Homo sapiens: one gene and its partners. The protein of the gene in region 2 interacts with the protein of the main gene of each other region in a pairwise test. Each region holds a gene or a part of one and is shown on either strand. Other genes may lie near its edges.

Region 1 (7,669 bases), on a different chromosome or scaffold from region 2:
AAGGTGCTGTGTTAGGGAGGATGGTGATACAAAGATGGACAAGGCTTGCCCTGCCTTCAGGGAGCTTATGATCTAAGAGCTGAGAAAGATGACCAAGGTTACAAACCAAAAGGCACTGTGTGCCCTGGGCTGGGAGTACACAGTGAGTGCTACAGGGGCTCAGAGAGGGCCAGTGACCTTCCAAGGACACACAGCTAGTAACCTGCGAACCACAACTACCTAATCCAAAGTCCATGTCCTTTCCCCTTCCTCACCAGGGGAAGCTCCAATGTTGGGGACAGGATCTTTCAGGAGAGGAGCCAAAAGGATTCGAGTGCAAATGCACTCTTCCCTACTGGATCTGGTGTGAGGCTGAGCCTCTGCTCCAGCTGGGAAAGCAGCCCACCCCGAGGACCCTGAGGGAATACTGCCAGTATCCTCGGGCTTCTGTCCACCCAGCAAGAGAAGAAGGGAAAAAGAATGCCCATGGACACTGAAAAGGACATTTTCTTGGCAATGGGACTGCATTTCCATCAGGGTCCCTCAACTATACACTAAAGCCCCCTCTCTTCCTGCTCCAGACCCTCAACTTCAGAACTGATTTGTGGCTTTATCTTTGTCAATATGTTAGCAGTCTGAGAAGCCCGGAACCAGGAACTGGGTCCCCTTTAAAGCCCGAGTTTTGCAGAAAACCACATAGCTGCCTCCATACCAGGCTCCGCAAGGACTCCTCAAACCACAAAGGTGTGTTTTTGGCAACACAGTTTTCTCCTTTTACCATGGATGAAAGAGACAATAAGCTAGAGGCTTTCTGTAAAACGCCAGGCTTTCCCTGCCATGGGCCTCTCTGCTCCCTATCTCTCCCGTCCTCCTGACGCTGAGGCTGCCAGGCACTTACTTCCGTAAACACGTCCAGTGCAGCCCCGGCACACTGGCCAGACTGCAGGGCCCGGAGCAGGGCGCCTTCGTCCACGATCCCTCCACGGGCACAGTTCACCACACGCACCCCCTTCTTGCACTGGGCAAAGGTGTTGTCATTCAGCAAGCCTGGAAGAAAGCGAAGCATCTTCCTGCTGGGGCAGCACCAGGATCCCCACGCTCATCCCTGGCTTCCAGAGGTCTTCCCTTTCCTTGAGCCAGCTCTTTCCCAGAGCCTCTCTCCTGCTGGACGGCAGCCTCTTTGCTCTCATCTCTTCCTCCTCAGATGCTCTGGGGCAGGAGTCCCTGTTATGGATCTGGGCCAGACTCAGTTTAGAAACATCTTAGAAATTCTTGAGATATTACTGTTTCAAGTGGGTCTGGGAATCAGAAAGCCCTGCAGGGGCTGCAGAAAGCATCCATGGGGGTCACTGGTTGTCCCTGTGCCCAGCTTACCTAGACCCCAAGCACTTCTAGCTGGCTCACCCTCCCCTATCCAACGTAGGGGTGTCTAACAAAACACCAGCCTCTGCAGGACCCAGGTGGACCTCTCCCCACAGCTGGTTACCACTGTCTGGGGAAGGCCCAGATGGAGGGCCCATTTGTTAACTGGTCTGTGGCTTCTGTGACCAATCCACAATGTAAGGACACACCTACCTGTCGTGGAGGGCAGGAGAGGAGTGTGCACAGTGATGAAATCACAGAGAGGCCAGATCTCCTCCAGGGGCAGCTGCTGAACACCAAAGGAGGCCGAGACCTCTGGGGAAATGATGGGGTCATACCCTATAGTCTGGTTGGAAGCAAGAGAGAGGGAGGAAGTGTCATTCTTAATTATTAGTATTGTTATTATTAAGAATGGCAAACATTTTTTGAGCATTTACCATATACTAACTACCATGCTCAGCTTAATTAATTCTCCAGTTAATTTACCATACACTAAGTACCATGTTCCACATACTAAGTACTATTTACCATATACTAAGTACCATGATCAGCTTAATTAATTCTCATGACCACACAATGATGCTGGGACTGTTCTTGTCTGCTTGAGAGCTGAGGGAAGCAGGGCTTCCACAATGAGGAGGGGCACAGCCAGAGCTCAAAAGAAGGTGCGTCTGCCTCCATGCTGTGATCACACACAGATGCAACAATAGCTCATATAGGTCTGGACAAGGTGGAGCTTGGAAGTCCTTAGAAAGCAGGGAGTCCTGAGGGAGGGAGGGCAGTCATGTAGGGAGCGGACAGCCAGGAAAGGGAGAAGGAGAAATGGCAGCTGCAGCTGGAGGGTCCAGTCCAGGAAACAGGTGCATCAGGTACTAAAACAGAGTGAGCAGAAGCGAAGGAGGAGGACAACAGGGGTACAAGGCAGGACCCAGAGTGGGAGCAAGACTGCATGCCCTCTAAATCAGGAAGCCTGACCTGTGTCCTCCCCCAGTCACTGCCCACTGTGTGGAAAGGTACAGGTCAGTTCCCCTGGACCTGGGTCCTCAACCCTAAATAAAGGAGCTGGGCAGATGATTGCAGCCATCTCTCACTCTCACATTCAATCACTGGGAATTATTTGAAGAGAAATCCCCCTTAACCCCGAGACAGAATGTAAAGAGTGAGCCCAGGATTAGACAAAAACAAAGAATACACAGCATAGTACTTTAACAGCGGTTGTCTCTGGGTAGTGGAATTATTTTTCTCCTTTTTGCTTTCCTGTGCTTTCAAGTTTTCTACTACATTATTCATAAATTACTTTTGAAATTAGGGATACAGTATAGATACTTTAGAATATAATGGGAAAGATGGGTGCCATTGCTCACACCTATAATCCCAGCACTTTGGGAGGCTGAGGCAGGAGGATCATTTGACCCCAGGAGTCAGAGACTAGCTGGAGAAACATAGTCAGACCCCCCCCCCTACAAAAAATTTAAAAAACTAGCCAAGTTTGGTGGCATGCACCTGTGCCACCCAGAAGGCTGAGGCAGGAGGATCACTTGGGCCTAGGAGGTTGAGGCTGCAGTGAGCCAAGATTGTGCCACTGCACTCCAGCCTGGGTGACAGAACAAGATGTCTCAGAAAAAAAAAAAAAAATAAAACAAAATAAAAAAGAACGTAATAGGAAAGAGGACTTCAAATTCAGTAATTCTAGGGCAGAAGCTAAAATGGTTATGATTAAGGTGAAGCCTCTGGATCCCTTTTTTCATCATTAGCCTTGTGGAATAAGGAAAGCCAAGTGGCCCCACACCAACCATCAGGCAGGTTTTGGGGAAAGATGCTGCCTCTCCCACGCCCTATAAGAACCTCCAGCTCAGAACGCTGGTGGTCTTTTTCAGACACTGCTGCTCCCCTCGGCTGTAACCTACTCATTTCTGGTGGGGAGGAGAAAGTGTCCAGGCGAGGAGATGGGATCCCTGCCATCGTTGTCACAAGTCTTCTTCGTCTGCTGGCCCTGAGGCCGGCCAGAACAATGGCCCTGTTCATCTCTAATCCAGATGTATTTTTTTTTCTCATATGGAGTGGGGAGAGGAAGGGAACACCAATAGAGATCACAAGGTCCAGCCTGACTGACGTCTACTCCATGCTCAGGAGCCAAGAACAACCTGGGGGCTGGCAGGAGGAAGGACCCTGCAGGCTGAACCTGGCCCCCTCCACAGACAGGTGACTGGGGCTGGAGGGAGGGGGTTGGGGAGAGGAGCAGGTGAGCATCTTCCTCAGGGGTGAGCGAAGCACTGACTCAGCTTCCTTCTTTCACAGAGAGTATCTCATTTATCTGCAGATGACTGCAGGGAAGGAATCTGGCTGAGCAAACCTCTGTTCTCATTTTCCATTTGAGATAACCAGGGCAGAGAAGAGCTGAACTCAGCTGGGGGTTGGGGTTCCGACACTAGGAGACAACACTGAGGGGATGGAAAGGGTGACAACAGGCCCAGGACACACGTGCCTGTCAGGGTCCTGGTGTGTCCTGGAAAGGGTCAGATGTCCTAATATACAGACATTGGAGCACCTCTGGGTACCCACCATTCAAAGACTACTCCCGGAGAGAAGCCTTGGGGAGAAACATGAAGGGGTTCCCTCACCTCAATCCCAGCCCCAGGGCAGACTCCTGATGTTGAGGCAACAGAGGAAGCCTCACTTTCTAAGCAGGACTCCAGGGCAGCTGGTGGCTCCTACCTGCCTGAGGTCACAGAAGACAGCCCTGAGAGGCTGGTATGCTGGCTGCAGGGCCTTGCTGGCTCAGCAGAGCAAAGAGGAGAGCAAGGAGGCCTCCCAGTTAAAGAGGCTCTGAAGAAGAACCCTCACCGTCACGTGCTCTCTCTGCCCCACAGCTGAATTTTTAGTTTAGCATTGGAACTCTCCCTACCACGGCAATGAAATCTTAAACAGAGACCCAAATATAAAAATAGGTCAATTCAAAGCTGCAGAGGTAAAGGCTCAATGTGCCACCACCTGCTGTCTCCCTGGGCCCCTCCTTGCTCCCACCTGTGTCCCTAAGGCACCTTGCCAGAACCCGAGGCTCTTGAGTTTGAGAATCACTGCTCTGGGCAGTAAGCATTCCAGGTAACACACTGAGATAGGAGCTGCCCATCCTGGAGAGTATCTGTCTTTGGAATAGCTAAGCATACCGGCATGGCACAGGGACTGTTTACCTAAAATGGATCATGAATAAAGTTAAGTGGTACTGGGCAAAGAATGCCAGCCTGGAAGGCTGAGCCGAAATTCACCAGTTCATAGTTGCATTATCTTCAGCATATCATAGAACCTTCCTGGGCCTCAGTTTCCTTATCTGTAAACCTGGGATAATAATTCTGACCCTGCAGAGTCATTTCAAGCACAGGAACCGACACAGTAGACCTCAGCAAACATTAGCTGGACCTGAAAAAATCGGTGATAACTGGTGCCTCAGGTTCAACATCCAACCCTCTGGGCTAAAGTTGGATTCATCACAACGCTGGCTACAAAGAAACTGTTAAGAGATGCTTGTCTGTTCCCTCAAGGAAAACCTTGATCATAAAGCACAAGGCTCGCTTCTTGATTGGTTTGTGCCTCTTAACACATTCTAAGGAACACACCAGCATGAATGAGCTGAGTCTCTGAGGTCACGACCTGTCATTCAGCAACACTATTGAGAAAAAGTCTCTCGCAGACACAACAGTATAGAGCGTTAAGACCTGTATGACTCAGACCACAGGTAGGCTGCAGGTCAGGCCACAGTGTGAGGAATGTCACCTCCCTTGCTCCGGAAGCCATACTTCTTTTAATGCTGCCAAATGTCAGGTTACCTTTTCTATCAGCTATGCCACTGACAACCACACTGCTCTTTTGTAAACCAAAGCCCTGCTCCCCCAGAAAAGCTTTTGACAAATGCTTCTACATCTAAAACTTGTCTAGCTGCTTTTTGGACCCACAAGTAGGGTGCAGAAATGTATTCTAGCTAAATTTCCTGTGAGGGTGCCCAACCATTCTAGCCTTCATATGTCTTTTTGGACCTGATTCTGCACCCTTAAGTATTAACTACCTCTCCTTGCTTCCTGCCATCCACAAATGACACATGGTTCAGGCTGTTGATGAGAATGGTGGGCAAGGTGGAGCACTATTGCATACTATCTCCCTCCAAACTGAGGTGGCCCATTCCACAACAGCACCAAGCACTAATCCCTTCAATAGCACCAAGCTCAAGGGGCTCCATCCGAACCCCGAGGGAATCATGAAAGATGTCTTACCAAAGTCCATATCTATACACAATCTAAATACCCATCATTGAGAGAATGGCCAAATAAAAAGCAATTTATCTGCACAATAAAATTCCACACAACTGTTTAAAAATATGCTAGATTTAGTTGTTCTGAGATAAACATGTTTTTTTCTTAACATCACAAACAATATTCTATTGTTTGCAGCCAAAGAATCCATCCACAGGCATGGAACTGTATGCATTCTGTGCAAATGCATAGAAAAGTCTCGGATGACATGCTAAACTGATGTTTACCGTGAGGAGACTAGGGTTCAGATGGTAATCAAGTATAGCCTTGTCCAAGTTTTAATTTATATGAGAATGCATTCCTTTATTACATGATTAAAACATAACTTTAAATAGTCCGGGTATCTGACATCTAGGGATTTCCATACTCTACCAGTTTAATAATGGTTTCCAAAAAGAGGATGAGGCTAGTATGAAATAACTTGTGTTTAATAAACACTTATCCTCATTTCCTGTCTGGGTGCTTATACATCTCTTTCACAATATGTTCAAGAATCTTCCTTTCCCTTTAGAAAATCTTGTTCTCCAAGACCGGTAGAACTGATGAGCTCTCCGCCCTAAGACAAAATTCATCCAGACTCAAAAGTATGATAATGACGTGGTTGAGGTAAGCAGCTGAGCACGAGAAGAGGCCACTTAGACTCTCCGGAATGATGAGGTCCAGGCAGCTCCGGAGGGGCTGAGGTGGGAGACGGAATGATCCAAGCCATGTTTCAGGGGTTTACAAAGAGCATGTTCTGGAAGCAAGACAGTTAAGAATGACCCTCCAGAGACATCTGGACAGAAGAAATGCAAAGTGAAGGCACTGGCACCCTCCACACCATGCTGGGAATGGGAATAAAACATTCAGTGGGTGACCTGCTCTGAGGCACAGATTAACACTGAAATGAGCAGGCCGTAGACATCTCTTTCAATCAAACACATGCACGAGAGGTGTCAGCCATTTCCTGACACTGATGCTCAAGGTCCCAGGTACCCATGCACCTCTTGGAAGCATCCCAGGGTAGAGAGTTGGGCAGTGCCAGATGGACAGACAAGCTTACCTAGCACCTCAATCATTCAGGAATGAGGTGGGGCTTTTCATCTGGTTGAAGTCGCTGCCGAAGTCTCCATGATGAAGAATATTGCCAGGAATATTGATGTGTAGTGGTGCCACGGAGAAGGAAGCCTGGGGAAGGGGAGTCATGGGGAAGAGGACCCCCTGGGGAAGGGGGCAGGAGCCTTGGAACGGCCACTGGTCTGGAGCCTGTCTCCCAGTTACTGCTTCATCAATGAAATGCTCACCTATTTGGCTATGAGTGCTCTTAGTTTTACTTAACTCCTGACCTCTGCCTTTTATATCAAAATTCTCCATGGACTAAACCTTGACCCTTGATCCCTTACAAAAGAGGATGGAGGAGGGAGTGCTCTTTGTGGCTTATGGCATCCCACCATCCCTGCACAGAGGGCAAGGCTGTGGTTTGTTTACATGATCAATGATCCTGCTGGGCTACATCTGCCTCTCTCAGGAGTCCAGGGATCAAGAATACACCTGGCCCTTCTCAGTGCAGAGGCTTAGGAAAGATATCTGGCTGACTTAAATAAATAAGATGGGGAGTGGAGGCAGGAGGGAGAGGATAATATTCAATGTGTACAATGGGATGCTCACCAGGCTCTAGGCTACTGTCCATTTGCTATGAGTCCTTAGGCATAAGCTTACAAATTCTAGATGTCAATGTAAAATTAAGGGTTAATCTATTAAGATCCCTTCTAACTCTAAGAAGGTAGGAGGGATGTAGAAAAAGGGAGAGTTCCATAGCAGCTCTATGTAAACTTTTCTAGATTTGACATGATCTGGTTGTCAAAACTGATCTCCTAATGTTTAAAGACTTCCTGGCTGCAGTTTGACCCCATAATCCCTGTAATTCCCTAAAACAGAAAGTGAACAGAGAGATGTCCCATAGTAGCCTTAGTGGGTTCATCTCTTTGGCCTATCTGGGAAGCCCTGCAGATCCCCTCTCTTAGCTGAATTGCCTCTCTCATTTG
Region 2 (7,669 bases):
CAGACTCTAGGCCGTCAGGGGCCGCAGGGAGGGACTCACCCGTGGCGGTCTGTGCCAGCTTTTCCTTGGTCTTGAGCGCGTGCGCCCGCTCTTCCCGCAGCCGGTCCTCGTCGCGCAGCAGGGCCACCAGCTGCTTAGCTTTCTCACGCACGTTCACGCCCTGGTCCTTGCCGTCGCGGTCCACGTACTGGAAGTCCTTCAGCGTCTGCACGGCGTACATGTTCTCCTTGCACTGCTGCGACACGCGCTCCGAGCCGGTCTTGATGAGGTACTCCATCAGCGTCATGGCCTGCGAGCGGGCACGGGGATGCCCGGTCAGCACGCCGGGCACAAGGCGGGCCAGAGACTGCCTGCGACGCGGGCTCTGGGGCGGCCGACTGGGCGCAAGGCCCACAACCCACCTGTCGCCAGTGGGTGGACACACATCTGTCCCCACAGAATACGACACGGCCATGCAAAGGAATGAACACAGACCCACGCTGTGACGGGGACCAGCCGCGGAGGTACTGCGCTCAGCGACAGACGCCAGCACAGAACGCCACACAGCCTACGGTTCCATCGACGTGAATCATCCAGAATGGGCAAATCCAGAGAGACGGAGTGGATTGTGGGTTGCCAGGGGTGGAGGGAGGGATGGAGAGGGACCACCTGAAGGCTATGGGTTTTCCTTCTGGGGCAATGAAGACGTTCTGGAGCTGGACAGAGGTGGTCGCCCAGCACTGTGAATGGGCCGAAGGCCACTGAACTGTGCGATATGAAGGGGGCTGCACAGTGTAGGAGCTCCATCTCAATCCAAATAAAAGAGGAAATGGCAGCTACAGGCACCACAGCCGCCATGGGCATCGCCTGGCATCCTGGAGCCCTGTCTATTTCTTTACAACTAAAATCTAAAGTAACATGGCCAAGAAAACCACATTAGTTAAATCACAATGAAGGGGGTCTTAGTACTAGTTTGAAATGTGTATTTCTGACTGTAAAACCTCACGCTGGTACTAACAGCCTGGAGCAGTAGTTTATCACCTCTGCAAGAAGGGAAGAGATCCACGCAAGGGCCTGTGTAGGCCCGGGCTCTCTTGGGAGGGGCACCCAGGTTCCACACCACCAGGAGCAAAAGGACAGGGCGGAGGGAACATTATCGTTCAATCTGCACCCTTTGGTATGTTTGTATTTTATAATACGAAAACAAACTCCCTTTCAACAAGTTGAAATTAATAGTGGGGGCGGGGGGACCAAGGTCTCTGAGGCTCTCCCTAGCTCAGGCTCAAGTCCTGGGCTTGAGGAGTCATGGCCCCCTTAAGGCTCTGCAGGGGGTGTCTTGGTCACTGACCTCAAAAAAAGGCACAACTTTGATTCTGCAGGGGATTCCAGGGCCTTCACAGAGCCACAGAAACCCACCCAGGGCTCCTAGGGGAAGAGTCAGCTATCACAGCTAAGCTCCGTCTGAACCAAGGAGAAATCTGCCAGGAAAGATGCCAGGGCCATTCATATCTCCTCACCCTCTGAGGCAGCTGGACCTAGCTCTGGCAAGGCCTTTCAAAGGTGTGTTAACAGTATTTACAGTGTAATCAGAGATTAGTCTTTAACCGGCCCTCAAGGTATTTACACGAAAGAAAGGAAAGCAGGTAAGCCATTGCTATGCCTGATCACACCCCAAGCCAAGAGGCAGTCCCAGGTCCACAACTCCTGGGGCCCTTGTGTTTTGGAATTCAGAATTTTCCTGAGTTCAGACCAGGAAAATAACGCACATACAACACATAAGAGAACGCGCTGGGCAGAGTCGTGCCAACAGCCACACTACTGTGGGACCAACAGACACCATGTGAACGACCTCACTTCAGTCTGGGTCAGACTTTGTGCCGAACGGATCATGAAACACTTTCGTTTCCAGAGCTCTCTGGACTTTGGTATCGCAGCTAAAAAGATTGTGAAGCAGGAAATAGTGCGAATACCCACGCACAGTGAAATGCATACATCAACTATGGCACGCTCACACAGCGGGACTACCACATACACTGAAATAAAAGAGAAATGAGGCCAGGTGTGGTGGCTCACGCCTATAATCCCGGCACTATGGGAGGCTGAGGCAGGTGGACCACCCGAGGTCAGGGGTTCGAGACCAGCCTGGCCAACATGATGAAACCTGTTTCTACTAAAAACACAAAACAACTGGCCAGGTGTGGCGGTGCACACCTGTAATCCCAGCTACTCAGGAGGCTGAGGTGGGAGGATCCCGTGGATCAGGGAGGCAGAGGTGATAGTGAGCCAAGAGCACGCCACTGTACTCCAGCCTGGGAGACAGAGTGAGACTCCATTTAAAAATAAATAAATAAGGCCGGGCATGGTGGCTCCCACCTATAATCTTACCATTTTGAGAGGCCAAGGCGGGCAGATCACAAGGTCAGGAGTTTGAGACCAGCCTGGCCAACATGGTGAAACACCATCTCTACTAAAAATACAAAAAATTAGCCAGGCATTGTGGCATGCGCCTGTAATCCCAGCTACTCAGGAGGCTGAGGCAGGAGAATCGCTTGATCTTGGGAGGCAGAGGTTGCAGTGAGCCAAGATAGCACCACTGCACTCCAGCTTGGGCAACAAGAGCGAAACTCCATTTCAAGAAAAAACAAAAAACAGGCTGGGCGCGGTGGCTCACACCTGTAATCCCAGCACTTTGGGAGGCCAAGGCGGGCGGATCACGAGGTCAGAAGTTCGAGACCAGCCTGGCCAATATGGTGAAACCCCATCTCTACTAAAAATACAAAAATTAGCCAGGCGTGGTGGCAAGTACCTGTAATCCCAGCTACTCGGGAGGCTAAGGCAGGAGAATTGCTTGAACCTGGGAGGCAGAAGTTGCAGTGAGCCGAGGTGGTGCCACTGCACTCCAGCCTGGGCAACACAGCGAGACTCCGTCTCATAAATAAATAAATAAGAAACAATAATTAAATAAATATATAAAATCGGGTGCAGTGGCAAAATCCTGTAACCCCAGTGCTTTGAGAGGCTAAAGTCGGTGGATCGCTTGAGTCCAGGAGTTCAAGACCATCGTGGGTGACATGGCAAAACCCCAGCTCTAAAAAAATAAATAAATAAAATAACAAAAAATTAGCTAGGCGTGGTGGCACATGCGTGTCATCCCTGCTACTTGGGAGGCTGTGGCAGGAGGATTGCTTAAGCCCGGGAGGCAGAGGCTACAGTGAGCCGAGAACATGTCAACGCACTCCAGCCTGGGCAACAGTGAGACTTTCTCAAAATAAATGAACAACTGCTTTATGCAACAGCACGGTCAACCTTGCTGACCTGATGGTGATGGTGAGCAAAAGAAGCCAGACACAAAAGACCACGCGTGTGACTCCACATATATAAAGCTCAAGAACAGTCTTGGCAGACAGAAATCAGACACGGTGCTGTGGGAGACAGGTCTCCTGAGGAAACCTGGAAGGCTGAATGCATCCTCTACCTCCCTCTAGGTGAAGGCTACACAGGTGTCCACATGCGTAACAGCTGTGTTATACATTCATGATGTGCTTAGTATACAACTTCTTAATGAAAAATTTAAAACCTTATTTTAGAAGTGAGCAAGTGGGCCAGGTGTAGTGGCTCATGACTATAATCCCAGCCCTTTGGGAAGCCAAGGCAAGAGGATCGCTTGAGCCCAGGAGTTCAAGACCAGCCTGGGCAACACAGTGAGACTGCCATCTCTACAAAAAAATTTAAAATATCTTAAAATTAGCCGGGCATGGTGGTGTGTGCCTGTGGTCCCAGCTATTCCTCAACCATGCTTGGAGCCCAGGAGGTCAAGGCTCAGTGAGCTATGACTGTACTGCTGGATTCCAGCCTGGGCTACAGAGCAACACTTTGTCTCTAAAAAAGTTAAAAAAAAAAAAAGTTTGCAAAATAAGTCATTATTTCTCCTTTGCTTTTCTGAAAACAACCAAAAAGCAGTGGGCAACTGCATAAAATGATAGTCCTTCTTAATGTTAAAGACAGCTTTATCAAGGACATCCTGCAATGCAGAAATAAAGTTTAAAACAGGGATCAGCAAACATTTCTGTAAGGAGCCAGATGAAAAACATTTCAGTTTTTCAGGCCATATACTCTCTGTCTCAACTACTTCACAGCCACAGATGAATGGGCCTGGCTGTGTTCCAATAAAACTTTATTTACAAACACAGGCTGTGAGTGGGATTTCACCAGTGGGCTGTACTTTGCTGACCCCTGGTTTAAAGCCAAGACTGAGACCCTGCATTCCTCAGAAGTGAGGTGGCAGTGCAGGGCCCAGAGGGTGGGCTCGGGGCTCCTCTTGGCTCTACCACCTCCTGCGAGGTAGAGCTGAGCTCCTTTATGTCTCAGTTCCCTCATCTGGAAAACAGAGGAAAAGGAGAAAAAGAACTTCCTTTACAGGGTAACCGTGGATTTCATGAGAACCTGTGTGTGCTACACGTACAAGGTACCAAATAAACGCCGGCCCTTACTCACCAATACTCACCCCCAAGGCCATGCAGGGAGGCCGTGCAGAGCCAGGCCTGCAAGGCCCCCACAGCTCACCCTCCTTCTCCACGGGGACAATAAGGCCCACAAAGTGCCAGCCAGCAGGGCCACAGGGTGGGACAGCCTGGGCTCTGAACAGATGGGCCCAAGCCCCAGCTCCCCCACGAGCCTCGGCAGGCCACCTCCCCCGTCTCTGGGCCTCAGTTTCCCCATCCATCAAAGTGGAAAGACTGCTCCTGCACAACCCACCACCTGGGGCTGAAGTGACAAGATGAGACCATGTGGCGAAGGGATGGTGAGAAGCAAGAGGACTCGCCCTCATGCCAGAACAGGTCAGCACAGAGGGCTCCGGAGAGGGCCAAAGGGGGTGTAGCAGCTTCACAGTGGCTCAGGGCCTCTGGGCCTGTGGGGTTGTCCTCATCACCCGTACTTCCAGAAGGGGACTGCGGGATAGAAGTGGTCAGCCAGGAAGGGAGGCGCTGGCTAGACGTGGACCCAGGGACCCCCTCCTGGACCCCTGCCCTGTGCCTATGCTCAGCTATCGGCGCATGCCGCAGCAGGGACAACAGTGACACGTGCTGACCTCACAAAGCTGCTCTCAGGACAGTGTCCAGCAGGCAGCACAAGCAGCAACCAAAGCAGGTTTCCAGACGCCATCAACCCTCCCCCGGGGAACTGAGGCTGAACCCCACCCCAGCATGAGGAACCAGTGGTTCAGGGTGGAGCGGGAACCCCGTGTCCTCAGCCACATGGGCTGGGGATCCTACAGGCTCTGCTGTGGGGATCATAGAAAGGAGAGTCCCAAGAATCAAGAGATGCTGCAGGGATGGCGGATACAGCAGGAACAGCCAGGCCTGGGGAGAGTCCCAGAGGGGCTGCAAAAACCATAGGGGAGGTCTTGGGGGTGACAAAAACCTTCTATGCCTTGACTGTGATGACAGTTATGAAATATGTGCATCTGTCAGAATCCAGAGAACTCTATCTCGAAAGGCTGGGTTTCACTGTGTGCAAATTACACCTCAGTAAAGCAGCCCAAGCCCCGCCTGGCACTGGAGGCCACGTCCCCTCTCCTGCACTGCCCTGTCCTGCCGTCCACCCTGGCTGCCAGCACCACATGCTCCCCAGCAGACTCTCAGGCCTTGGCACCTGCCAGCCCTGCCCACAGGCCACTCTGTGTCTGCCCCCAGCAGCATCACCCCAGCCACTGACCAGGAAGGATGTGCGTCTGGGGCCCCTCTGGATTCATCCCCTCTGCACACCCACCCCTCCAGCCCCATCCCTCCTCGTTGCCTCCAGAGAGGCTCACCTGCACCTCCAGGGTTTTCCAAGATTCTCAACTAAACAAACGCCACCCAGCCCTTCACAATAAATGACCAATAACTGATTCAATCTATGACTCAACCCAATCCTGGTGTGTCGGGATGGGTATGAAAACGAGTCACAGGAAACGAGCCTCAACCCCTGCTCCCATGTGTAAGTGCTGCAACGCTCCAGGCCTCAGCCTCCTCATCTGTGAGTGGAGGGAACCACCCTCACCTAGGCAGAAGTCTCAAAGATCAGCAAGGACAGGGACCTCCGCCAGAGCAGGCCCAGGTCTAAGCGCATGAGGGTGGGGCCTTGTTGGTCTGGTGCACCAAGACACCCAGAGCGGGCCTTCTGCAGATGCTTGCCGACGGGACCGCAACAGCAGGAGTCTAACACTCACCAGCCCCTGCCCCAAGTCAGACGTGAATCGGCTCCATGGGCCCTCACAGAGGGAGATTCAGGGACGAGCCTGAGATCCCGCCACTGGGAGTATAACCCGGCCCCAGCCCATGTCCTTGGCCACTTTGCCGTAACACGAGGAACACAGTAACCAAAGACCAAAGGTGGGGATGCCAAGGCCCCTGGACCCCAAGAGCAGCAAACTGAAAACCCAGTCGCTGAGTCCTGCTCACAGGCACGACAGCGTTCATCCCCAGCGTGGCATCGCCTGTGCCACGGGGAGCACACACCTGCCTGAGAGGCATTCATAGATGGGGCCCAGAGCGGAAACTTGGCTGCTGTGAGGAAAGGAACTGGGTGTCTGGGCACACAGAAGAGATGGGCACCGTGGGCCCTCTCAGGCCTCCTCAGCACATGAATCTTACGTACGCACCACTCACTCAAAAACAGATTTTAACCACAAGGCTCCAAACTTCTTAGCCTTATATTCGTTGCCTTCATTAAACAAAAAGAGAGATTTTACTCTTCTCCAGTTCCTCTTGAGAACCGGGATGCCATCCCAGGCAGGGTGCACAACACGGGCTCCTGTCCTCCCACCTGAGCCCCTGCACCTGCCCGGGGAGGAGAGCAGGATGCTGACCTTGTAAACGTGACGCCAGTTCTTGCCATGGTCATTGAGCCGCTTCCAGATCATGCTCATGATCTCCGAGAAGGCGACAACGTTGTAGGTGAGGTCGGCAATCTCTGACATGAGGGAGCTGGATGGGCCCCAGGGGTCATTGCTCGTGGCCTCTCGAACCTTGATCTCCGCCTCTGAGTAGTTGTGGACGATGTTCTTCATCTGGCGCCTCAAGGACGAGGTCGACATGGTGCCCGGCTGCAGCAGCAAGGGGCACAGGGCCCCGATGCGTGGAGAGATGGGGCGACTCCCGGACGAAGGCTGCGGCAGGTGCTGGCAGGTCACCGCATCTGCGAGGGGAAGAGGACCTCTGGAAACACAAATGGGACATGGCCTGCCCAGAGCCCTCAGGGTCAAAGATGAGTTCCTAACTGTGGCCCAGAAGGCTCTGTCCCTTGTTAACCTCTAGGTCTCAAAGTAACCCCATCCATGTTTCAGTTCCTCAAACAGGCTGCCTCCTTCCTGCTGGGGCCCCTGCTCAGTGAGGCAGAGTATATGCAGTGGCAGATCGCAGCCCCACAACCTGGCTCAGCACTTCCTGGCAAGGCCACCCTGGGCGGGCTGGATCTTTTGCACCTCAGCTTTCTCTTCTGTCAAATGGGGCTCCATGCGGTCATCTAGAGAACTGACGCCCTGTAAACACCGGCAGCGCATCAGGAGGCCCTCCGTCCTGCCCATGCGCTCTTCCTTCTTCCTCATCCAGGGATATCCACTCACCCCAAGGGCTCTGCTTACACTTCCCAGGTGCACACCCAAACATCACAGTCACCTATCCCTGGGGCCTCATCAGTAAACTCAGTC
Region 3 (7,669 bases), on a different chromosome or scaffold from region 2:
TACCTACCAACTTTACACTATATTGTCAAAAAAAACTAGATATCTGAACCTTAAGTATCACAAGAGCTTTCTTAATTCATAGGCAAAAAGCAGTCTCTCACGCCTGTAATCCCAGCACTTCGGGAGGTCAAGGTAGGTGATCACCTGAGGTCAGGAGTTCGAGACCAGCCTGGCCAACATGGTAAAACCAAGCTTCTACTAAAAACACAAAATTAGCTGGGCGTGGTGGCACATGCCTGTAATTTCAGCTACTCCAGAGGCTGAGGCAGGAGAAGTGCTTGAACCCGGGAGGCAGAGGTTGCAATGAGCGGAGATTATACCATTGCACTCTAGCCTGGGCAACAAGAGCGAAACTCCATCTCAAAAAACAAAATAGTGTTCTCTTGTGCACTCCCTCACTCCTTTACCCCTTACTTTTCTTACTGACCCTATCCCTCTTATCTTCATCAATTCCTTTTATGTTTTATTCTCATTTTACTATCTCCCTGAGTTGAAAGATTCATTCACTTATTTTCAAGTGTTCTGGCTTTCTTTTTTTTTTTTTTTTTTTTTTTTTTTTGAGATGGAGTCTCACTCTGTTGTCCAGGCTGGAGTACAGTGGTGTGATCTTGGCTCACCGCAACCTCCACCTCCCAGGTTCACGCCATTCTCCTGCCTCAGCCTCCCAAGTAGCTGGGATTACAGGTGCCTGCCACCACGCCTGGCTAATTTTTGTATTTTTAGTAGAGACGAGGTTTCACCATGTTGGCCAGGCTGGTCTCGAACTCCTGACCTCAGGTGATCCATCCGCCTTGACCTCCCAAAGTGCTGGGATTACAAGCTTGAGCCACCACACCCAGCCCAAGTGTTCTAGCTTTCTAAGGAATGCAGTTAAGTTGCAAAATTCCCCAACTGATTTTGTATGTGGCATACCATTGTCATTCACTTTGCTAAAGGGTATCATACTGGATTATTCATATATCTTATATAGATTTTGTTGTCATATCAGGTGGAAGAGTCTAGTAGGGACTTTGGTCTGCCAATTCAGTTCGATTATTTCAGAACATTTTTCTTGCCTTAGATTTGTAATTCTCTCTTTTGGGTTGTACACTTTATGGACATCAATAATCTTTCTGAACTTTTTTTAGTCTAACATATCTCTGATCTTTTCATCTTTTTCCTGTCACTGAGAGTATCTCCAGTCTTTTCTTCCATGCCAATGATTCACTTTTCATTTGGGGTTGTATTGAAGGGAAGACCACTTTCTTCAGATTATAACGTGAATGGCACCCTCTTGACAGCAACAGACCTTCTAAGTTACAGACACAAAAGAGCAGAAAAGAAACATAAATCTCTGCCCTCACACAGCATATATTCTAATGAAAGCAGATGATGAACAAGATAAATAGTTGATAGATGGTGAGTGTGTATGGGGACAGGGAGATACAATTTTAAATATGGTGGCCAGGAAAGCATTCCTGAAGACTCTGCTCCTGTTTCTTGGGTTTTATTTTCCTCCACTCTAGGAGCTTTTCCTGAGGCTTGCATTTTCCTTTTCTTATTTTTCCTTCATGGTATATCTGCATAGTTGCCAAGCCACTTCTTTACATCCTGCTCACGTTTAACATGGGAAGTGATATCTAAAACTGCTGTTTGCTCTCATAAAGTATGAGTTATTTCTCCTTGACACGCTTCCTACCTAATCTGGTATCAACTGGTAGTTCCACCCTGTTCTACCTCAGTCCAGCCCAGCAACAGTTTGATGGCTAGGTGTTACCCTCACAATCAACATTCTGTAATCTGAGGGCACAGGGCTAGAAGAGAAGGACATTTCTTCTGAGACCGAGTAAGTCTTTTCTGAAAACTCTGGGTCCTACACTCTCTTCTGAGCATATTCCTTTGAATGTCCCATGCTAGGGCTCACTTCACCAGACAGAAAATTACCCAACTCCTGTGAGCTTCAGTGCCTTTCACTGCCCTGCAATGATGAGTCCTGGGAGAACCGTCCAGCCTCTGCTGAGGCCCCAAGGACATCACATTCTTAAGGATTTTTTCCCTAGCTTTTCCAAAAAGTAACTTACACTTAATCAGCATCACTCCAGATTACAGGGTAATACTGAAAATTTGCAAGATTTAATTAACTCATCTTGTCACTGCTTCTGGGATTCGGGTAGGATTGAAGAACATCTCAGTAGAATCATCTATTTCTTTCTTTAACTGTTTGTAGTTTGTGCTTGAGATCAAACTTCTTTATTTGGTTGCACCATTGAAATGTTTTCCCCTCAGGGAAGATGATCTCTAATCCATTTCACCATCTTTCTCAAAAGTCTCTATTATGGGTTCAATTGTGTCCTCATGAAAAAGATATGTATAAATCCTAATCCCCAGTACCCTCAAATGGGACCTTATGTGGAAATAGGATATTTGCATATGGAATCAAATTAAGATAAGGTCATAGTGAATTAAGGTGGGTCCTTAATCCATTATGATTGGTGTCCTTTATAAGAAAAGAGAATTCTGGACACAGACACAGCCGAAGAAGGCCATGTGACAACAGAGGCAGAGACCGGAGTGATGTGGCTGTCAGCCAAAGAACACCAAGGACTACCAGCAACCACCAGAAGCTAGGAAGAGGCAAGAAAGGATCCTACCCAGCATCTCAGAGGGAGCAAGGATCTGCTGACACACTGATTCCAGACTTCCAGCCTCCAGAACTATGAGACAATGAATTTCTGCCATTTCCGTCACTCAGTGTTCAGCAATTTGTGACAGCAGCCCTAGGAACTGACAGTTTCCTTACTCTTTACTTTCTTGCTTTTCTGGTCATTTTATTTCAACTATGCCCGTTACCCACTGTGAATCTAATAATGAAAGACAGCATGATGAGACTGCTATTCCTTTCTGCCATTTTCACCACAATGGGATCGGCCTAGGCAGTCTGAGAGAGGCAGAAACTAGAATTGGAAAAGCGACTCTTGCATTTCTCTCATACATCCACTGAGTCCCTTATTCTGATGCCTGAAAGAAAACTCCACGCCCTTTCTTTTCATTTTTTGGTAATCAGAAGTTAAAATAGAAAATACTTTTTAAATTAAACACATAAGAAAGCAAAACTTACAAGCAATCATCTGTGCTTTCTGCACAAAGACTAATTGTTTTCCCATCTCGACAAACAATCTGGAGCATGCAGTCTTTTGACTTTCCATCCGGGGGCTGAGTATCTATGAAAAATAAGCAGAATAAAGGAACTTTTTTCAGGATTTCTTCTTACATTTTCTAAGAACTACCAGCTCAGAGAAGCAAAGGACTAGACAATAAATCAAGTGCTACATCTATGAAAGAACCCTCTGCCTTTCCAAGAATGCAGAAAGAACATAGCTAGGCTGACTGACAAGACCAGCTGCCAAGATGACGTCCACAAAATATATTCGGCTCACTGCAACCTCTGACTCCCGGGTTCAAGCAATTCTCTACCTCAGCCTCCTGAGTAGCCAGATTACAGGCACCTGCCACCACACCTGGCTAATTTTTTTGTATTTTTAGTAGAGTTGGGGTTTCACCATCTTGGCCAGGGTGGTCTTGAACTCCTGCCCTCGTGATCCACCCACCTCGGCCTCCCAAAGTGCTGGGATTACAGGCATGAGCCACCATGCCTGGCCAACATCCCAGATTTTAAGCAATTGACTGGAGTCACCATCAAACAGAAGCCAGTTTCTGAGTACAAAATCAACGTAGTCTAGGGTGGCCTGTGCTTCCTGAGGTTCCCAGAGCTCTGGCTCCCTCTCCACGAGAACGAGGGACGTGGACTGAGAACACTGATATTTCCCGACCATGTGGTTCATAATCTAAGTGCCTGGGGCCCCACTGTGGTCGCCCCTCTGAGATGGAGCCCTTCTTCAATCTGTTAATGAAAGCAGAACAGGGAAGGAAGAGGACCAAGCTCCCAGCAAGACAGAGGAAGAGCAGAAGACAGAAGTTGGCCAAGACAGGCCAGCTTACCCCGACATTCCTGCCCCGTGCGGATGTTGATGCAGTCCATTGGCATGTGGACCTTATCCTCGATATTCTGCCGAGTCTGGTCATCATAATAGATCAGGTGACCATCCGACCACAGATCAAACCAGTTCTTCTTCCAGCGCTTCAAAATAGTACCTGGAAAAAAAAAATAGTACGGTTGTTTTTTTTTTTTTAGAGACAGTCTTACTATTTCGCCCAAGTTGGAATGCAGTGGCTATTCACAAACATGATCATAGGTCACTGCAGCCTTGAACTCCTGGGCTCAAGCAATCCTCCCATTTCAGCCTCCCGTTTAGCTGCGACTACAGGCACATGCCACCATGCTCAGCCTTCAAAATTTAGAAATCTGAAAGGTTGGCTTTGCGCCAAAAGAGCAAGGACATAGTCCTCTAATTCACAGCAGAAACAAAAAGAACTCTTCCCCTGGCCCCTTAATTACACCTGTATAGAATTACCCAAAGCAGTCCCTCACAATGAAAGGGAAAGCAGAGCACAGGGCCCGCCAACTGGTGCTTTAACAGGCTGCATGCAGCACACACTGTCAACAGAGAATGCTGCCAACCAACTTAGAAGTTCCAACACTTTCCGGTTAGGGTTTCTATTAAAAAGCTTGCTTTTCAGCAAATGAAACATATCTAACATTTAATTCCTCATACAGTACTAAACTTTAAACCTCTCAAACTTTTCAACTTTCTAAATTTCCAAATATTGTCTAAATTGCCAGATTGATCAGAAAATGCTGGACTGTGAAGTCTCTATACGCAAATAAAAATAATATCTTTCTCTTTTGAAAAAACACATTTTGGCCAGGCACGGTGGTTCACGCGTGTAATCCCAGCACTTTGGGAGGCCGAGGCAGATGGATCACTTGAGGCCAGGAGTTCGAGACCAGCCTGGCCACGATGGTGAAATCCCATCTCTAAAAATACAAAAAATTAGCTGGGCGTGGTGGCTCGTACCTGTAATCCCAGCTACTAGGGAGGCTGAGGCAGGAGAATCGCTTGAACGCAGGAGGTGGAGGTTGCAGTGAGCCAAGATCGCACCACTGCCCTCCAACCTGGGGGACAGAGCAACACTCCGTCTCCAAAAAAAAAAAAGAAAAAACACGTTTTTTTTCTTTGTCCTTAAGAGTTTTCACAGATACTCTTTCCTACCATTTCCCACAGAAGCCCACAGTGTGGAAGGCTCCCCCCTTCCTGATGCATACACTGGATAAATGAGCACAGCAGGATATAGACCAGGCCCTGCCTGGCCTCCCATGCTGTGCACATCCTACTACCTCACGTACTTCTGTCAGCTTGAGCAAATTCAACCTTTCATTTGTGATCTTGGACCAGGTATTTAACGTGGTATATAAAACAGTAATTTCCTTTAACTTGGTATATAAAACAGTAATTTCCTTGACTGCATGAAGGGAAAACCCCTGCAGTGGACTTAAAGGCCAGTTGTAGCTCCGGTCATCTCTTTACCTTCCTCACATCCATTCACTGCCCACTACACCTTCTGTTCCTGTACATCTCATCCCATTCTTGGCCAACACACACAATCCCATTTCGTGTACTTCCCTTTATGTTGCCGTGCCTGCAACTGGTGTCAACCAGATATGCGCCATTCGGCTTTCCTGCCAGTAGTATCAGGCACTCTCCTCACCAGGAGGGGTGTCCACTGCACTTGCCTAACTGACCACTAAGTGATACCCAAGCATCCACTTGACTACCTGAGCTGTGCAGAAACTACCAAATAGGCTGGGCGCAATGGCTCATATCTGTAATTCCAGCACTTTGGGAGGCTGAAGTGGAAGGATCACCTGAGCCCAGGAGTTTGAGACCAGCCTGGACTACAAAGCAAGATCCCGTCTCTACAAAGAGAAAAATAGCCAGACATGCTAACACAAGCCAGCAGTCCCAGCTACTTGGGAGTCTGAGTCAGGAGGACCACCTGAACCTGGAAGATCAAGGCTGTAGTGAGCAGTTATCACGCCACTGCACTCCAGCCTAGGCAACAGAGCAAGACCCTGTCTTAAAAAGAAAAAAAAAAAAAAGCCAGGCACAGTGGCTCATGCCTGTAATCCTAGCACTTTGGGAGGCCGAGGGCGGGGGGCGGGGGGGGGGGTGGGGGGGGTGGACCAGGAGGTCAGAAGTTCAAGACCAGCAAGGCCAACATGGTGAAATCCCATCTCTACTAAAGATATAAAAATTAGCCTGGCATGGTGGCGCACACCTGTAATCCCAGCTACTCAGGAGGCTGAAGCAGGAAAATTGCTTGAAGCCAGGAGGCAGAGGTTGCAGTAAGTTGAGATCATGCCATTGCACTCCAGCCTGGGCGACAAAGCAAGACTCTGTCTCAAACAAACAAAAAGCCCTACTAAATAGAGCCACAGAAACACAGAGACAGGTGGAACCACTGGGTCAGGGAGTTCTGCCCAAGTATCTCACCTGCCATCAAAGCCCTGGCTGCAGACTCCCAAGTCAGGCTGTCCTCCAGAGGCCAGGACTGGGTCCCAACAGTACATGTGGCAATGGCAGGAAAATAAGTCCCAAGGCTGGCTTTGCCTACCTGTGACCACATCACATGTGTATCTCTGCTGCTCTACAACCCCGTGAATATAATGTATCTCACCTCGTTTTACTGGCATTGATACTTCTACTTTCAGGAAAGAAGGAAAATTAACCCATACATATGGGGATGGGGTTATATACAGAGTAAATCGTCTGAATACACACTTCTGAAACACCCATGGACCAGAACACTGGAAAAGTCTATGTGACTTATTTAAAGTACATCTATTTTGTGTACATCACCATGCTAGGCGTGATGGGGAGGACAAAATTGTCAAAAGAGTCACTGATCACTATGTTGACAGAGCACTTACTTCAAGTTGTGGTGGAAAAGGGAAAGCTTGCCCTCAAACAAGGGTGTGGCAAAGGACATCCAAAGGGCCAAAGGAGGGCACACCCTCAAGGTCTGAGCAAGGGTCCCCATGTCCCCTGACCATGGGGACGTTGAGACCGCAAAACCCAAGACTAGGAAACTTGGGCTAGACTTCAACAAGCCAGGACTTTCTTTGTGAAGCTAACATTACGACACCTTTGTCTATTCTAAGACTACAGGACTAACAGACAAGGGGACATACAGTTCAGCTCCAGGTTGGGAACATGGAACTAGTCACAGACACACAGGCTGAAGACCGGTCTCTGGGTGCATATAATGTCAGTGTTGAAATCACACAGTCCTGACTTTGAATGTAGGTTTGTCACCCACAGTTCACACTTAGACAAGTACCTAACCTCACTGAATCTCAATTTCTTCAACTGGAAATAATACCACTTACCTCTCATACAGCTGTTGTGAGAATTAAGAATATATACATAAAATCTATTTAACAGGAACACAAACAATTCGTAAACAATAGTTTTGATAAACCATCTCAGGTATGCCATCAATTCTTACTGGTAGACTTGACTTTAGCTAAATTTCTGAAAGTAACCCTCATAGATAAACTCAAGTCTCTGAACAATCAATGGTATGTGATACAGCTCAGTTTTTGACTAGAATCATAAATGACATGGTAGTCACTTTTCCCTTAACTTCACTCTTTCTAGTATAGCAGAATATTCTGCTTGCATTTTTTAATAAATAAGACTGGTTCTTCCCACTTTAAAACACAGTATGA
Region 4 (7,669 bases), on a different chromosome or scaffold from region 2:
GGGCGTGTTGGCAGGCACCTGTCATCCCAGCTACTCGGGAGGCTGAGGCACGAGAATTGCTTGAGCCTGGGAAGCGGAGGTTGCCATGAGCCAAGATCACGCCACTGCGTTCCAGTCTAGGCGACAGAGTGAGACTCTGACTCAAAAAAAAAAATTATTATTATTATAATTTTTTTGTGTAGAGATATGGTCTCACTCTGTCACCCAGGCTGGAGTGCAGTGGTGTGATCACAGCTCACTGTAACCTCAAGCTCCCAGGCTCGAGCAAATCCTCCGACCTCAGCTTCCTTAATAGCTGGGACTACAAGTTTGTGCAACCGTGTCTGGCTAATATATATTTTTTAATTAAAAAAAATTTTTAAAGATTGTCTTTATATATGATTTTGTGACTCTATTTTTTTTTCTTTTGTTTTGAGACAAGGTCTTGCTCTGTCACCCAGGCTGGAGAGCAGTGGCGTGATCCTAGCTTATTGCAGTCTCAAACTCTTGGGCTCAAGTGATCCTCCTACCTTAGCCTCCAGAGCAGCCAGGACCACAGGCATCTGCCATAACGCCCGGCTAATTTTTGTACCATTTGTAGAGACATGGTCTGAATTTGTTTCCCAGACTGGTCTCAAACTCTTGGGCTCAAGTGATCTGCCCACGTCGGCCTCCCAAAGTGCTGGGATTACAGACGTGATCCAACATGCCTGGGCAAGAATACCTTTCGTTGAGCAAATTGTTGAGAGGTAGAATGAGGAAAACTTTTGGCTAAAAGGGACCCCAAGATATCCCAAGTGGCATATTTATAGATGTGAAAGTGATTCCACAGCTGGGCATGTCAGATCAAAATTCTCCATGGATCAGGAATGCCTCCTTTTCCTTTTCTGTCACCACCGGTCACATTTGGCTACTTAATTTCTGGGCTCCAGTGCAGCATGGAAACGCGAGGCCCTTTGTTCAAAAAGTGTTCGAATTTCTTTTCTTCCTTCTTTTTTTTTTTTTTTTTTTTTTTTTGAGACGGAGTCTCGCTCAGTCACCCAGGCTGGAGTGCAGTGACACGATCTCGGCTCACTGCAGCCTCCATCTCCCAGGTTCACAGTGTGGAGAGGCAGGGCACGGTGGCTCATGCCTGTAATCCCAGCACTTTGAGAGGCTGAGGCAGGAGGATCACTTGAGCCCAGGAGTTTATGACCATCCTGGGCAGCTTAGCAAGACCCTGTCTCTAAGTAAAATTAAAAAGTTATAGCCAGGTATGGTGACACACACCTGTAGTCCCACCTACTCCAGAGGCTGAGACAGGAGGATTGTTTGAGTCTACGAGTTTCAGGCTGTGGCGAGCTATGATCATGCCACTGTACTCCAGCCTGGGCAATAGAGTGAGACCCTGTTTCTCTCTTTCTTTCTCCCTTTCCCTCTTTTTTAAAAAAAAGACATTGTGGAGAGTGTGTGTGTGAGTTTAGGGTGAGGGGGACTAATTGCTGTTCTAAGAGTTTCGTAGTTGGGGGGGTGATAAGGAGGGGATGGGGGGTGATGAGGAGAGGGATGGTTGGTGGGTGGGCCTCTTATCCCAGGAGATAAGCCAAATTGAAATGAAGGCGCAAAACAAGGGAAACAAAATGGGACTAACCGTGGTGGCATTTCCTGGCCTTGGGGCCTGAGGGAGGGAAGACTGTGGAATTTATTTAGAAAACTTCCAAACCAGCGGTTATGAGTCTTTTTTACTATTCTGGCCTGTTGCTCTTGTTCTTTTCAGAATTATAAATGTGTTTGTGTGGCTGTTTGATCTCAAAGCAATGCTCAGAAGATGCAGTGTCTCGAAATCCCAGAAGATAAGATGTTACCACATGAAAGATGGTCTCAATAAAGGGGGAGAGGCGGTGGCCGAGGCCTTAATTTCCAAAACGAGAAACTGGGGCCCACCCATCTTTTAAAGGTCGTCAAAAGAAAGCTCCCATCCTCCCATCCCCCACACCTGTGTGTTGACTCTGTAAAGATGCAGTTTCCTCACTTTGGGAGGAGAGGCCGTGGTTTTTGCAGGAATTGCGCCGCTGCCGAATTCAGCCATTGCCTCTTGGAGGTTTAGGATGCCCCAGGCCTTGTTTTCCCTCAAAGCATTCCATTGGCAATCACGACCAACCATGCTCCTTGAGGATTTCTGTACACACTGGCTTTTCCTGGTCTTGTAAGTTTTTATACGAGTCAGTTTTCACCATAAATCATGGAGGTGGGTCTGGGGCTGTGACGGCGAGTCCTCGACGTTCAACCCGGATGTAGGTCACTCCAGACCCCCAGGGTGCCCTGTCGTTCCCTTTGCTGGAAGTTTCAACAAAGCCAGAAGCAGATGTCAGGGGTTCCCGGGGTCATCTGGGAGGGATGTCCGCTGAGTTTAGGGGCAAGCTGGGACTGCTGCATTTCTGTTCCTGTACGTCAGAGGAAACTAGCAACACGCCTCAAACCACTTTACACCATGTCTCAGTGTTAAACCAGAGCCTGTTTTCACAAACACCTCCTGCGATCTCATTACAGCCCCACCCTGCCCTCCTGCTTCTGTGGCCTTCTCTACTTTGCTTCTTGCTCCTCTTAAAGACCTTCTGTCTCATCTGTCTTTTCTGGGGTTGGGCCTTTCCCCTTCTCTATAACCTTCTGTGACTCCCACGGCTCACAGCTTTGCTGTATATTAGGAGCAGAAAGCAAGCTTCATTACATCATTTAAAATTTTTTAGTAGCTACATTTTTTTTTTTTTTGAGATGGAATCTCGCTCTGTGGCCCAGGCTGGAGTGCAGTGGTGTGATCTCAGCTCGCTGCAACCTCTGCCTCCCAGGTTAAGTGCTGGGATTACAGGCGCACGCCACCAGACCTGGCTAATTTCTGTATTTTTAGTAGAGATGGGGTTTCACCATGTTGGCCAGGCTGGTCTCGAACTCCTTACCTCAAATGATCCACCCATCTCAGCCTCCCAAAGTGCTGGGATTACAGGCATGAGCCACCGTGCCTGGCCGCCACATTTAATGTATTTATTTATTGATTTTTGAGACAGAGTCTCACTCTGTTGCCCAGGCTAGAGTGCAATGGCGCAATCTCAGCTCCCTGCAACCTCCACCTCCCGTGTTCAAGTGATTATCCTGCCTCAGCCTCCTGAGTAGCTGGGATTACAGGCGCCCAATATCACACCTGGCTAATTTTTGTATTTTTAGTAGAGACGGGGTTTCACCATGTTGGCCAGGCTGGTCTCAAACTCCTGACCTCAGGCGATCCGTCTGCCTTGGCCTCCCAAAGTACTGGGATTATAGTCGTGAGCCACTGTGTCTGGCCTCTTTTTTATTTATTTTGTTTTTATTTATTTATTTTTGAGACAGTCTCGCCCAGGCTGGAGTGCAGTGGCGCAGTCACGGCTCACTTGAACTCCTGGGTTTAAGTGATTCTCCCACCTCAGCCTCCCAAGTAGCTGGGACCACAGGGGTGCACCACCATGTCTGGCTAATTTTTAATTTTTTTGTAGAGACAGTGTCTCCCTATGTTGCTCAGGCTGATCTAGAATGCCTGGGCTCAAGCCATCCTCCTGCCTCAGCCTCCCAAAGTGCTGGGATGACAGGTGTAAGCCACCATGCCCGGCCTAGTAGCCACATTTTGAAAGGTACAAAGAAACAGGTGAAATTAACAATACATTTTACTTAACTTCATATATCTAAGCTGTGGTCATTTTAATATATCAATATAAGAAATTATTAATGAGATATTTTACATTCATTTTTTCCTACTAAGTTTTGAAACCCAGGGTGTATTTTTACATTGACATTCTATCCCAAATTGAATGCTAAATTTTTATCAAAAAACATTTTGATCTATATTCAGTGTTCATCAAATTTACCATTGAAAAAATGATTCATATATTCAAGTTGTCCCAGACTTACATAAAAGCTTCCCAATAATTGAATTGTTAGTTTTCACATTTAAATTGCTTAAACTTAAATACAAGTAAAAATTCATTGGCAAGTAAAAAGATGAAAAAGAAGCTAAAACAAAAAAAATTCAGTTCTTCACTCACACTAGCTCATTTCTTTTTTTCTTTTAGACATAGAGTGTCGCTCTGTCACCCAGGCTAGAGTGCAGTGGCATGATCATGGCTCACTGTAGCCTCCACCTGCTAGGCTCAAGTGATCCTCCTACCTCAGCCTCCTGGGTAGCTGGGACCAGAAGTGTGCAACACCATGCCTGGCTAATTTTTTTAATTTTTAAAATTTTGTAGAGAGAGGGTATCACTATGTTGTCTAGGCTGGTCTTGAACTCCTGGGCTCAAGTAATCCCACTGCCTCGACCTCCCAAAGTGCTGGGATTGCAGTCATGAGCCCCCGTGCCCGGCCACAAGCCACATTTTAGACGCCCAATAACCTTACGTGACTGGTGGCTGCTATATTGGGCAGCAGATACAGAGCATTTCCATCCTCACAGAAGATTCTGTTGGACAGCACTCTGATAGAAAGAAGTCTTGAACACGTGTTCTCCAAGGGACTTTCAAAGTTTTCTAGAATGCAGCCCCAACCTATCTTTACTTACTGACTTTCTTTTTATCACGTTCACTCCCCCGCCTCTATTCCACTTTGTTTCGTTTGTTTGTTTTTGAGACAGAGTCTCGCTCTGTTTCCCAGGCTGGAGTGCAGTGGAGTGATCATGGCTCACTGCAGCCTCAACCTCCTAGGATTAAGCAATCCTCCTGCCTCAGCCTCCTAAGTAGCTGGGATTACAGGTGTGTGCCACTACACCTGGCTACTTTTTTTATTCGTTGTAGAGACAGGGTCTCACTATGTTGCCCAGGCTGGTGGTGAATTCCTGGGCTCAAGTGATCCTCCTGCCTCAACCTCCCAAAGTACTGGGATTACAGGCATGAGCCACTGCACCCAGCCCTTTTGTTTTGTTTTGTTTTAGAGATGGGGGTCTCACCATGTTGCCCAGGTTAGTCTTGAGATCCTGGGCTCAGGCTATCCTGCCACCTCGGCTCCACAGAGTGCTGGGATTACAGGTGAGCCACCGCACCTGGTCTCTGTTTCCACTTTGAGGTGAATACCCTTTCTTCGGTTCCTCCAGAGAAGTCTCCTCTTTGGGGCTTGGTTTAGAGGCAGGGCTTCTGAGAAGGACTCTACCCTTCTCCCTGCAGTGGGATTAATTGCTGCCTTGGCTTCCCACGAGTTCTAGAAAATGAGGCAGACAGTGTCGGGAGAGGGGAGTGGTGGTTGTGGCTCGCTGCCCCGGAGCCTCATTTCCCATTTCTCCCGAGACAGGTTTGAATGGCTCTTCTAAGGCAGCCTGAACCCTGCCCAGTTAGAAAAACAGCCACACAAAGAACAGCACTGTGTCTGCTTCCAGCTGCCCCATGGCTGCTGGATCATGGAACATCAGACAGGAGCACACTCTGGGTGCAGGGTGTAATTCTAGGCGAGCAGCAGCTCTGCCAGGGCTGGAGGGAAATCCTTTCTTTGCCCTCACAAAAGAAAATGTGTGCCTGGCTGCTCTGGTGCTCATTTTTCAAAATGAGAACTGGAGTCTATGTGTATTTCCTTCTTAAAAAGCTATAACACAGAGGCTGGGCGCGGTGGCTCATGCCTTTAATCCCAGCACATTGGGAAGCCAAGGCGGGAGGTTCACTTGCCCCCAGGAGTACAAGACCAGCCTAGATAGCAAAGTGAGACCCCCATCTCTACAAAAAATGAAAACATTAGCCGGGCGGGGGGGCACATGCCTGTAGTCCCAGCTACCTGGGAGGCTGAGGCAGGAAGATCACCTGAGCCTGGGTGGTGGAGGCTGCAGTGAGCTGAGATCACACCACTGCACTGTAGCCTGGGTGACAGATCTTGTCTCAAAAAAATAAAACAAAACAAAAAACAAAACTATAACACACATACAAAAAAGTATATACATTTTAATTGTACAACTGAGATTTTTACAGACTGAACATACCTCTGTAACCAGCCCCCAGGTGAAGAAAGAGAACAGGACCCGCCCCCCGCAAAGGCCCCCTCATACCCCTTTCCAGATTCTTCTTCCTCTTCCAAGAGTAACCGCTCCATGGATTCATTTTGCCTATTTCTGACCTTTATTTAAATAGCATCATACAGTGTGCATTTTGTGGCATCTGGCCCCTTTGCTATTTGTGATAATTTGTGGTTGGTTTTTGAATGCCTTTATCTTTTCCGTTACCTGAAACAGTTAGTGAAAACCACAGTGGTTTAAAAACCAAAAAAACCACAAAAAAACAAACAAAAAAAAACAACGAAGAAGAAACACCAGATATGGAAGGTACGTAGGTCATTGTCTGGTAATGGTTTAAGATGTGAAGAAGAAATGACCCTTATTTGGTTGATGTTTCCACTTTGGATTTTCCAGGTTTTGGTGATTTTGGGTAGTAATTATTTACTTTTTGATTAATTCTGGGGTCTTGAAGGGACATTAACCCTCTTCCTAGCTTTTGGACAAAGCTGGATGGAAGTCATTTTCTCAGAATTTCTGTTTGCCAGAAAGAAAATTGAAGACTTAGGTGAAAAAGAGAGGGAGAGATCAACTGAATTTCTTATCTGGTATGTTCTGTTTCTGTTTTAGGTAAAATGTCGGTTCCAGGACCTTACCAGGCGGCCACTGGGCCTTCCTCAGCACCATCCGCACCTCCATCCTATGAAGAGACAGTGGCTGTTAACAGTTATTACCCCACACCTCCAGCTCCCATGCCTGGGCCAACTACGGGGCTTGTGACGGGGCCTGATGGGAAGGGCATGAATCCTCCTTCGTATTATACCCAGCCAGCGCCCATCCCCAATAACAATCCAAGTACGTGTGGCCTCCCAGGCCCCCCTTACCATTCCTTGGCCCTCCACCCTGGGAATCAGGAGAGTGACCGAAGTGACTCTGCCAAAGAGTCTAAGTGAAGTGCCAGTACGTTCCAGTTTTACCCCCTTACCTTGAAATTCCACACGCAGTCTTTTAGATTCCATGTTGGTGAGGCTCACAGCTTTTCCGTAATAAAGTATGGTTTAGGATCTTTCCCATGGTCATCATATACGAATCTTTTGGCACATCTCTTGGAGGCACAACCAACTTTCTTCTGAGAATGGGAGTTTGTGTCTTAAGGGCCCGCACACTTCCTCCTGAGGTCTGATGCAGAACTTCTGCCCTGAGGCCAGGGCCGAGGTAGGAATAGGGAGGAGAAGAAACCGTCCTGAGCAATGTGTGATTGTGTTTTCATACCAGCTCACCCTCAATGCAAGTTGCTCTTCTGCTTTTGAGCAACTAGATGGTCCCTGTCCTTTGGTGCTTCCTTCCGCCCAAGGGTGCCCTGGTATGTCACTGCTTTAGTATCACAGGTAGTTCTGAAAGAAATCTTTAGCTCAGAGAGGGGGCCCGTGAATCAGACTGCCTGGGTTCACATAACCTCCTTGTGCCTCAGCTTCCCCATTTGTAAAATAGGTTTCATCAAGTACCTATTTATAAATATCAGTGAGTTGTTAACATGAGAGGAAGTTGTGTGTGCCAAATACAGAGTACTCGTTTGATAAAAGTGAACTCTTATTGTTGTGTTCAAGTTATTTTGAGCTGGAAGAGGATGAGATAATGACTTTAGATTCTTAGACCATCCTGTGATCAATAAATAGTTTCTTTTTCTTTTTCTTTTTTTTTTTTTTTGAGACAGGGTCTCACCAT

Evidence for each region.
Region 1: the proteins of EPN1 (region 2) and PHGDH interact in binary tests that used the Homo sapiens proteins (3 or more experiments, as listed by UniProt).
Region 3: the proteins of EPN1 (region 2) and PLEKHB2 interact in binary tests that used the Homo sapiens proteins (3 or more experiments, as listed by UniProt).
Region 4: the proteins of EPN1 (region 2) and LITAF interact in binary tests that used the Homo sapiens proteins (3 or more experiments, as listed by UniProt).

The regions. Positions count from the first base shown.
Region 1 is NC_000001.11:119,728,652-119,736,320, reverse strand, and holds part of PHGDH (D-3-phosphoglycerate dehydrogenase), read right to left. Parts: exon of another isoform or gene 6,688-7,669; intron 6,382-6,687; exon of another isoform or gene 5,922-6,381; intron 1,688-5,921; coding exon 1,555-1,687; intron 1,027-1,554; coding exon 878-1,026; intron 1-877. UniProt on the Homo sapiens protein: Catalyzes the reversible oxidation of 3-phospho-D-glycerate to 3-phosphonooxypyruvate, the first step of the phosphorylated L-serine biosynthesis pathway.
Region 2 is NC_000019.10:55,678,016-55,685,684, reverse strand, and holds part of EPN1 (epsin-1), read right to left. Parts: intron 7,159-7,669; coding exon of another isoform or gene 7,058-7,158; coding exon 6,830-7,057; intron 290-6,829; coding exon 40-289; intron 1-39. UniProt on the Homo sapiens protein: Binds to membranes enriched in phosphatidylinositol 4,5-bisphosphate (PtdIns(4,5)P2). Modifies membrane curvature and facilitates the formation of clathrin-coated invaginations. Regulates receptor-mediated endocytosis.
Region 3 is NC_000002.12:131,122,215-131,129,883, reverse strand, and holds part of PLEKHB2 (pleckstrin homology domain-containing family B member 2), read right to left. Parts: intron 6,315-7,669; exon of another isoform or gene 6,217-6,314; intron 4,132-6,216; coding exon 3,979-4,131; intron 3,201-3,978; coding exon 3,098-3,200; intron 1-3,097. UniProt on the Homo sapiens protein: Involved in retrograde transport of recycling endosomes.
Region 4 is NC_000016.10:11,555,641-11,563,309, reverse strand, and holds part of LITAF (lipopolysaccharide-induced tumor necrosis factor-alpha factor), read left to right. Parts: intron 1-2,143; exon of another isoform or gene 2,144-2,164; intron 2,165-6,574; coding exon of another isoform or gene 6,575-6,579; coding exon 6,580-6,799; intron 6,800-7,669.